2 separate regions of the Homo sapiens genome follow, and region 2 is reported to be linked to region 1. The links are microRNA targets in miRTarBase. Many come from high-throughput screens and were not tested one by one. Region 1 holds a microRNA gene; the other region holds the end of a gene's coding sequence.
What was found. Region 1 holds the annotated microRNA hsa-miR-128-3p (UCACAGUGAACCGGUCUCUUU, at 2,573-2,593, opposite strand). A microRNA usually pairs through its seed, bases 2 to 8, with sites in the 3' UTR of a target mRNA and lowers its output. Matches are read on the target gene's strand: a 7mer-m8 pairs with bases 2 to 8, a 7mer-A1 pairs with bases 2 to 7 and ends in A, and an 8mer does both.

Region 2: miRTarBase lists SLC1A4 as a target of hsa-miR-128-3p. Seed matches in the 3' UTR shown: 7mer-m8 at 3,465-3,471.

The regions. Positions count from the first base shown.
Region 1 is chr3:35,742,722-35,747,119 of GRCh38, reverse strand. It overlaps MIR128-2 (microRNA 128-2), which reads right to left and starts at 2,644; the gene lies at 2,561-2,644. It overlaps ARPP21 (cAMP regulated phosphoprotein 21), which reads right to left. Exons shown (of 21, transcript NM_001385562.1): 19 at 3,155-3,281.
Region 2 is chr2:65,020,828-65,025,225 of GRCh38, reverse strand. It overlaps SLC1A4 (solute carrier family 1 member 4), which reads right to left. Exons shown (of 8, transcript NM_003038.5): 8 at 1,361-4,314. The coding sequence ends at 4,080. Among named protein-coding and RNA genes, the nearest start is that of LINC02576, 7.7 kb to the left of the region's middle.

The DNA of each region.
Region 1 (4,398 bases):
CTCCACCTCCCAAAGTGCTGGGATTATAGGTGTGAGCCACCACACCTGGCCCCAACATTAGTGTTCTTTATTTATAATTACCACCAACATAGGCTTCCTCTTCCACATGTTTAGGACCTTTTACCATGTGCTGATCGGATGAAGAGTACAAAATCACCAGGATAAAGAACTTATGTCTCCCTACTGTGCCACAGGGGAACTCAGGTGTCCTATTTAATCAACAGTATAGTGTCCAGTTCACTTTACAAAAATTCACTGTGTAGAGTTTTAAGTCTTAGGAAAGATGTAGTAACTGACAGAGATTTCAATTCTGGCAAGAATGTAGGAGAAGGAAGAGAGGCTTTTTACTGCAATTAAATAAAGATTAAGAACAGCGCCAAGAAGCAAATTCAGATTAAAATCTCATTTGACTTTAACTGACATAATTCTGTCTCACTCTAATTTTAACCACGTGATAGCTGAGGATGTTATGACATAATCTGGTGTCATTATCAGATGAAGATGGAAAAGGGTCAGATCCCAAGACACACAGCTGCAGGAGGCAGGAGGAAGAACAAGTTAAAACATGACTGTGGGAGGGTGACATGCTGATAGTAGCCCATAGTTTGACTTAAAGATGGAGAAGTCTTATTTTCTAGTTCTTCCAGAAAATATAACTTATACAGTTATCTGAAGAGGCTCTTTCCTCTATGAGATAGTCCATCCACATAGAGTTGCTCTCACAAATGACTGCCATGACCATTTGGAAAGTTTCTGTTAGTCTCCCTAGGCTCAACAAAAGGACGCCCAGCTGTAGGACCCAGAGCCTCTGTGCACTCTCAAAGAGCCACTGTGTGGTCTGGTTACTTGGATTTTATTAGCAGAAGTGATTCTCTGTAAGGTCAGGGAACACCATCTGCTTTCCCAAATACTAGGTACATTCATCACTGTGGTGGAAACTGTGTTGGGATTTTAGGCCAGGTATCCAGTGTGGTGGTCACAAAAACTAAGAGCCCAAAGGTCTCAGTGTGCATGTGTATACTAATGCCATCATTTCTGGGGACAATACTGTTTATGATCATTTCACTTTTCTCACTTCCTCACCCTGTACAGGCCACATTAACTGGCACTCACTTCCTTGACACCCTAGGCACTGCCTTGCTTCTATATTTAGCTTGATGCTGCTCTAGAGTGCACTCTTCTCATTACAGTGTCATTATCTTACCTTGGGAGGGTCATTTTTGCGGTGATGTGGGAGAATGTGACAAACCAAAGCTACCAGGTTGCCATGGAATGTAGGTGGAGCCAGTGAGGTCTCTAACTGAATGGGAGAGGGTGTTTCCACATCCCTAAATTCTCCCATTGTGCTTTATTAAAGAGTAAAAAATGCCTCATATATTGTCTCTTGTTTTGACATCCACTAACAAAGTTAGTGAAGAGGAGAAAAAGCAATGGAGAAGTCAGTGGGGGAGGCCTAAACTTTTTTGAAATCTAATTCTGTTGCCCAGTTATCATATTCATCTAACTTTCTCATCCCCTCACATAGATCTAGAGTTTATGGGTTTAGTGGATTGCAGCATGTTTTGTAACTGCGTTTCTTTGTATGATGACACTCTACCACAAGACTGAAATAATCTCTTTAAAAATTGCCACACAATGGCACCAAACCTAATAAAAATCATTATAATTAGATATCTGCATCTTTTTTCTTCTAAAGGCATTAGTAACCAAGTAGAAAACTTGCACATAGCCTCTAAACCAAGATCCTCAAGATTGTAAATTAACCCTTTAATTAACGTTAGCATAAAATAAGATAGTCCAGAATGCAAGCAACACATTTCTACAGCATGTATCTAAACTGATAGCACCGTTACCACCAAAATGATAAAGGTAATAACGTTTTCCACAAATTAGAGAAAATATTGCCAAGTGATTTTTTAAAAATAAATAGTTATTTGAAACCCTTTAGTGTTCTCAAAACACTGTAAAAGTCTAAAGTCAATTCAGAGGTCAAATATATTCTTCCCCAAACTAATACAGTGCTGAAACAAGACAAAATCTGGCTGGAAGATATAGGTTTCTCTAATTCTTCTCCCACAGACTTTAAATAGGCCATGAGATAAACCAAAGAACATGTAACCATCCACAATACGGGGGAATTTAATTCTTTCTCCAATCTGACAGGATGCTAGCAGTGTCAGCATTGGTATTCTTAGGATGTCTGTGATTGGTGCTAATCCTTGGCAAGAACTGCACTTTTCTCATAGGTTATAAAAATGGTACATATTGTGTATATATTACATACATGTATCTGTATACATTCCATATGCATAACATAGATTCAGTGCAGAAATCAGATCACGGAGCAGGCATCTATGAGTAGCAGCAAGGAGCACGTGCTCTTTACATGACCTACTTACAGAAGGCAGAGTCTCCCCGTCAGGCAGTCTTCAGCATGACAATTAGCAGTTTTTCCTGCAGTTTGGTCAGCAGGAATGACACAAACCTCTCCCTAGCACAAGCCACTCAGCCCTGTCGGGTTCGTGCTGCTCTTTGGATAACGGCATTCCATTAGGAGTGTGACACAGTAGGGAAAGAGACCGGTTCACTGTGAGACCTGCTACTCACTCTCGTACAGTGTATCGGCCCCCCTTCCCACTGCACAGTGGCTGCCGGGCTCTGGGCAGGAGGCATGTGGCCATCATGAAAGTGAACCATGGAGTCAGAGTTCCACCGAGACACGCTGGATTGTCAATAGCCTTCTTCTAAAGGCAGTATCTTTTAGCACGATATTGAAACAACCTAATTTGGTTCCCTAGCCTTAAGAACAGAGGAAGCACTCTCTTCAAATTGAAAAGAAAAAAAAAATTAAAAGAAGGTATGAACTAGAAAGGTACGGACATGGTTGACTTTCTGCTTTAACAGAAGAAGGATCAAAAAATAATTTATGGAGACTGTTTAACATGCATGCCAGGGATGCTAGTCTGACATATGCTTCACCTTCTTGTACCTACTACTTTTCCACACAGAGTCAATCAAATGCTTTGTTATCTTCTCTGGGTAGAGAAAATGTGCTGGTTTAAATTGCCAAGCTTGGACACTCATCCAAAGAGTACAAGATTCACCAGCAAAAATAACTGGGTTGAGAAGCAAATGGGAAACAGATTCCAAGTACCTGCTTGCTGTGCTGCCTGTGGCATCTGTTGACTCCTCTGAGCGTTGTACTGAACCGGGGCCATGGGCCGGTACTGTTGCGTGGTTGAGGTAGGGTACTGACCAGATGGGTAATAATATACAGGCATCTGTGGAAGAAAGGAGGAAGAAAGCAGAGAATGAAAATGTAGATAATGTAAATTTTTAAACTTAAAATATGCTTTCGTCTTATAATTGTGGTAGGTTGTGAAGATGGCCACCGCAAACTTCTCCCATGCCTATGTGTATGTGCATGCTACTTCTCCCGTAAAGAGGCAAAATCCATTTCCCAAACTTAAATCTGAGCTGGTTCTGTGACTTTCTTTTACCAACGCCATGAGGCAGAAATGATGTCTGAGTCTTTCAAGTCTGATCCTAAAGAAGACTTGCAGCTTCCACGTCTGTAGGCGGGGAACCCAGCCAAGAGATAAAGAAGTCTAGACTATTCTGCTGCAGAAAAAGGCCATGTGGGGAACACAGGTACCCCCAATTGACTGGTTACCCTCCAGTTCCAGGCATGTAAGTGTAGCCCTAGTCAAGCCACCCCAGCCATATGGAGCAGAGATGAGCCATCTGTGATAAATCCTGCTCAATTGCTGACCTAGTCGTGATCATACAATGGTTGTTTTAAAACAAGACTTTTGTGTTTTTTAGATGAAACAAGAGAGAGTGAAACAGTTATCATCAACAACGAAAACCTACATTTTAAATATTATATCTAACTTGAATTGCTTTTCTAATGGAAACAGGGGTGAAACATGAAAACTGCTGATCTGTAGCCTAAAAGGAGCAGAGAATGCAATCATGAAATATGGTAGTCTATCAAAGCACATTGCAGAATGATTGGTACACACCACTATTCAAAAAAGTATGTTCAATCTAAAAGGGAAAATATGATAAAAATGTTGTTTATGCTACCTTCTTAACTTTCTTATGACTGAGAATGAATAAAATTATTCTGATTATTTGATTATGATCCAAATCAAATGTTTCCTGATCTGATAGACTTCTTTGCCTGCCTCAGTTCATTTATATTAAGGTCACTTTCTTACTGATCTTAGTTAATTATTTTCTATCTCTGGGCTTCTGAGTTTTCGCCTATCATATTCTCTAAAATAACAACTGAAGTACCCTAGTAGACCGCCTACAAACATTATATACATAGGATAAAATTACAAGTCAATTATTTGAGAACTGTGATTTTCATGGTTATTTTGTTTTCTGATT
Region 2 (4,398 bases), not on the chromosome of region 1:
ACAGACTCTCACTGTCACCCAGTCTAGACTGCAATGGCATGATCATGGCTCGCTGCAGCTTTGACCTCCCAGGTTCAAGTGATCCTCCTACCCCAACCTCTGGAGTAGTTGGGACTATAGGTGTGCAGCTAATTTTTTATGCACAGCTAATTTTTAAATTTTTTTTTATAGTGACAGGGTCTTGTTTTGCTGCCCAGGCTGGTCTCAAACTCTTGGCCTCAAGCAATCCTCCTGCCTTGGCCTCCCAAAGTGCTGGGATGATGGTGTGAGCCACTGCACTCGGTCTCCCAATTTTAAATATGAGACTAAGCCATGGAGAGGTTATCATGCCCAGGGTCATGCAGCAAGCAAGCAGCAGAGCTGGGAGTGGAACCCAGACAGCCCATGGTCCTCCCTGCTACATCGCCTGTGCTATTCAGACACAATTTACAGTTCCCGTGAGCAGGTTCAAGTAGCTCATCAGATCAGCGCTCCTTCTGATCCCCAGGGAAGAGATGGTTTGAGTGTAGATTTGCTCCTCTTGGTCTGGTTACATCAGAAAACTGACTCATCAAGTACTAATCCCAACCTCCAAACACTCTCCACAACAGAGAGTCAAGGCAACCACACTCCAGGGTAAGAATCCAAATCGTTACTCCTAGCAGGCCCCATCAGGCCCCTGATCGGTGTGAACTCTCTCCTCATCCTTTGGGGATTGCCCAGAAATGAAAACCAGTTCCTGTATTATATGAAGAGCTGGAAATGTTCAGGTCAGACAGGGGATCTGTTTCTTCAGAGGTTTCCACTCTGTTTGCAGGATAATTCCTATTATAAGAGGTGTCTAGATTCCCTAATGTTGCTGGAATGTGGTGTCATTGAAAACAAGATTATATAAAAGCATGGGCGAGGTGTGGTGGTGCCATAGTAGAGGCATGGACAACTGCTCTCTTTCAGGGACTTTCCCAGAATTCTAGGGCCTGGGGCTTTCTTCCTGTTGTTCCTACTTAATGCTTGCCTTACAGTAGATGCTCAGTTAGGGCCTGTTGACCTAGTCGTTCTGACAAGACATAACTTTATGGAGGTATGTGGCAAAACCACACACTTTTTACAAGAGCCCTGCTGGTGTGGAGTGGGAAGCCCCTGAGCAGCTTGACGCTTCCCAGTTGCAAGCAGGTGGCCGCAAAAGGATCAGCGACAGCAGCTCCGGCGGTAGCACTGCCCCCTGAGCATGCCTGCCCTGACTTAGGGGCTCGTGCCTGATGAATGGAGCAAGGAAAACAAATCCCTTTAGTCACCCAAAGCCCATCTCCTAGAAGAGCAACAGCTCCTCCATCAGCAAGTGCCGCTTCAACACACAAGAAGGGAATAAAGGAACTGCAGATTCCAGTGGAAACACGGTATTCATTTCTGAGGACTGTGCTAGGTTTTAAGGCAATTGTCACATGTACAAAACAGTCAGATGAGCAGTATCTGAACAGATTTACCACAACATGTTAGAAAGAGAACAGCAGGGGAAATGTTTTCAGACAAGGAGATGTGAGATTTTCCCCAGTCACGTAACCCCTGGTCTACCGACTCTGTGGACTGAAAACCAGGAAGATAGACAGCACATTCTCTCTTCTCGCCTCCAAGGGGAAGGGCCACCTGCACACTCTCGGAAGCACCCTTCTCCAGACCCAGACACGCTTCTTACTGCAGGGCCAGGCCAGGACACAGGATGGTCGGCCAATGAGTCTTAAGTCCAGCTCTAATTTCACGCTTTATGGCTTTGTGAAATTCATCTTTAGAAATGGGAAAATCAAGATACCACAGACATACAACTTGTAGTTAATAGTTAAGTTCCCCTCTATCCAAACACAAACTTGCTTGGCTTGGAGCTAAAACTATACACACACGCACACACACACATGCATATACACAACACACATGTGTGTATAGATATACATATGTGTGTGTGTGTTGTGTATATATATATGAAGGAAGAAAAAAAGATTTACTGAAGCCTGAAGAATAGTGAGTGTTCATTTACCATTTGGAATCAAACAATGTGATTGTTTCCCTTGAAAACAGAAGAGTATCAGCAACATGCTCTACCCAGCGGGGAAAAGTTTCCAGTTTCCTTTGCACGGTTCCTGGTCCCTTTTGGCTTCACAGGAGACTGGAATGGCTTAGCTGGTTTAAAGAGAGCTGGGCTTTCCCCCTGGCTGGGTCAACTCTGTGTCCCATGGCTCTTCTTCACCCTTTCTGCTCAGGCTCATGTCCCCAGTTTTAAGAAGGGGGTGTGGCTTGATGGTCTCCGTTCCATCTACCCATTCTCATCTCAATGGTACACACATCCATAAGCGTGTGCCCCTGTCTGTAGGGCCCAGGTGACACATAGCAACAGGGAAAACAAGGGAGTGAAGGAGGCTGAACACTGGGGAGCTTTAATGGCCTGTTACAGGGTGGCAGAAACAGTGGCTGGGTCTGGGAGTCACAGCAAAATCAGGCGCCCAGAACCATGGTGGAAGGTGGGGTTGCTAGTTCATGAAAACTTGAAGGACATTAGGAAGAGGCGGCATTTGATGCTGTCAAGTAACTACACACAGAACAAGGGCATGATAAAAGTCCTAATGCACATAGAGAACAAAGCCCTGCTCAGAAATGCTGTCCTCACCAGCAGAAAGGACTCTGTGGAGAAAGCTGTCCCTTACATAAAAAAGAAGAACATACTGGGTTAGCACTTGATATCCAAGAAGTGAAATGGTCGTTTTCGAAGATTAACAGTTTGCTTCACCAAATCCCTCTGAGGTAGGTAAGAGGCAGGTGACATTAGCCCCATTTTACAAATGGGGTAAAGTGAGGCCCCAGGACCTGTTACATCACGAATATGCATCAACAGCCACAAACAGCACGCTCTCAGATCTTCCCCTTCACTTAGCTTAGAACCGTGTCAGCAGGTAATTGGAAAAACATGGACCATTTCGCTGATAATTTTAAACTTGGATGTACTGGCAAGAAAGGGCTCTATATTTTGAAATCAGCCAAAGCCAGGGGACCTGGGAACCTGTGAATGGGGGTACCCCACTCCAATTAGTACATGGTTTTCTCTGGGGTGGTGGTGGTTTTGTTTTTGCTGCAGTGCAGCATTTTACAGAGTGTCCAGTTGAATTCAAATAATAGATGATAAATCAACAAGGGTCCTGAATGTGATAACTACATCACACCTCCCCAGGGAAGGAGGCCCATCTCTGGCCTTTTGCCAAATCAGCGTGAATGGAGAAAAAGCCAAAGTGTTATCAGAGGCCCAGGCCTCTGGAAGGAAGCAGAAAAGTGCCCCAGGGCTGGGATGCGAACTGGGACAATTGTATGTGAAACCTGTCCTGTCCTGATTAGATTAGAGAACCCTCTGCCCCGCTTCTCCCCCACAAGGCTGCATTCCCTCTCCTTTTTTCTTTGACCTCAGAATCTAAGTTGTTTACCTAAGGCTGTGGACCAGAGACCACCACAGTGCTAACACCCACCTGGAGTATTTCTAACTTGACAATGTGCGGCACCTGCAGTCTCCCAGAACCCAGGGATCAGAAGCTATCCACACCTAGCTATAGCACAAACTCTTTAAACACCTGAGTCCCAGCTCAGCAAAGGCCAGCCATGGCTAAGAATTTGAGCATTTTTTCAATTACTGCAACTCGAGGCAATGCGACAGATGACTATAAACCCCCTTGGTTTGCTCAGAAAACACCTGATGCAGAGCTGACCGGGGAGAGTGAAATACATCTGCATTTTTTCCAAGATGTAACCACACAGGACCCTGTGAGTCCATGATTTCTTGAGCCTGGCAGCTCAAGGGGTTGTTTCCAAACAGATCCCTGGTGTACACACAGTTGCACCTGGACATGGATCAAGCCGAATGTCAGAGTGTCCTTGTCCTTGGTAACCAGTTCCGGCTGGGGAGCCCAATGCCAGTGCCGAGAGGTAAGCCTCAGGCCAGCGACTGGGCCAAAGCATTGCTTGGGAGGGTAAAAGTTGGCAAGGGCAGTGCCCTGTGTCCATGACTGGCGGCTGGGTGAACAGGGTGGGACATCACTGCTGGCAGGCAAGCCCAAAGCCCAGCCCCATCACAGAACCGACTCCTTGGATTCCAGTTCTGGGGCACTGGCCACGGGGCCAGCGGGGTTCTGGTGTGTCACCAGGGGCGATGTCTCCTCCTCAGACTTGCAGTTGGGGATGGCTTCCACTTTCACCTCAGCAAGTTCCTGCTCGCCTTTCTTTGTTGCCTTCTGATTCAGGTGGTGGAGAATGCCTGCACCCAGGGCATCCCCTTCCACATTCACCACCGTGGTGGTCCGGTCCCTGGTGGGAAAAGAAGAGGCAGCTATTATATCTACTGCTGGGCGATCGGGTCCTGTCACAGGCAGCCTGGATGCCGAAGGAAAG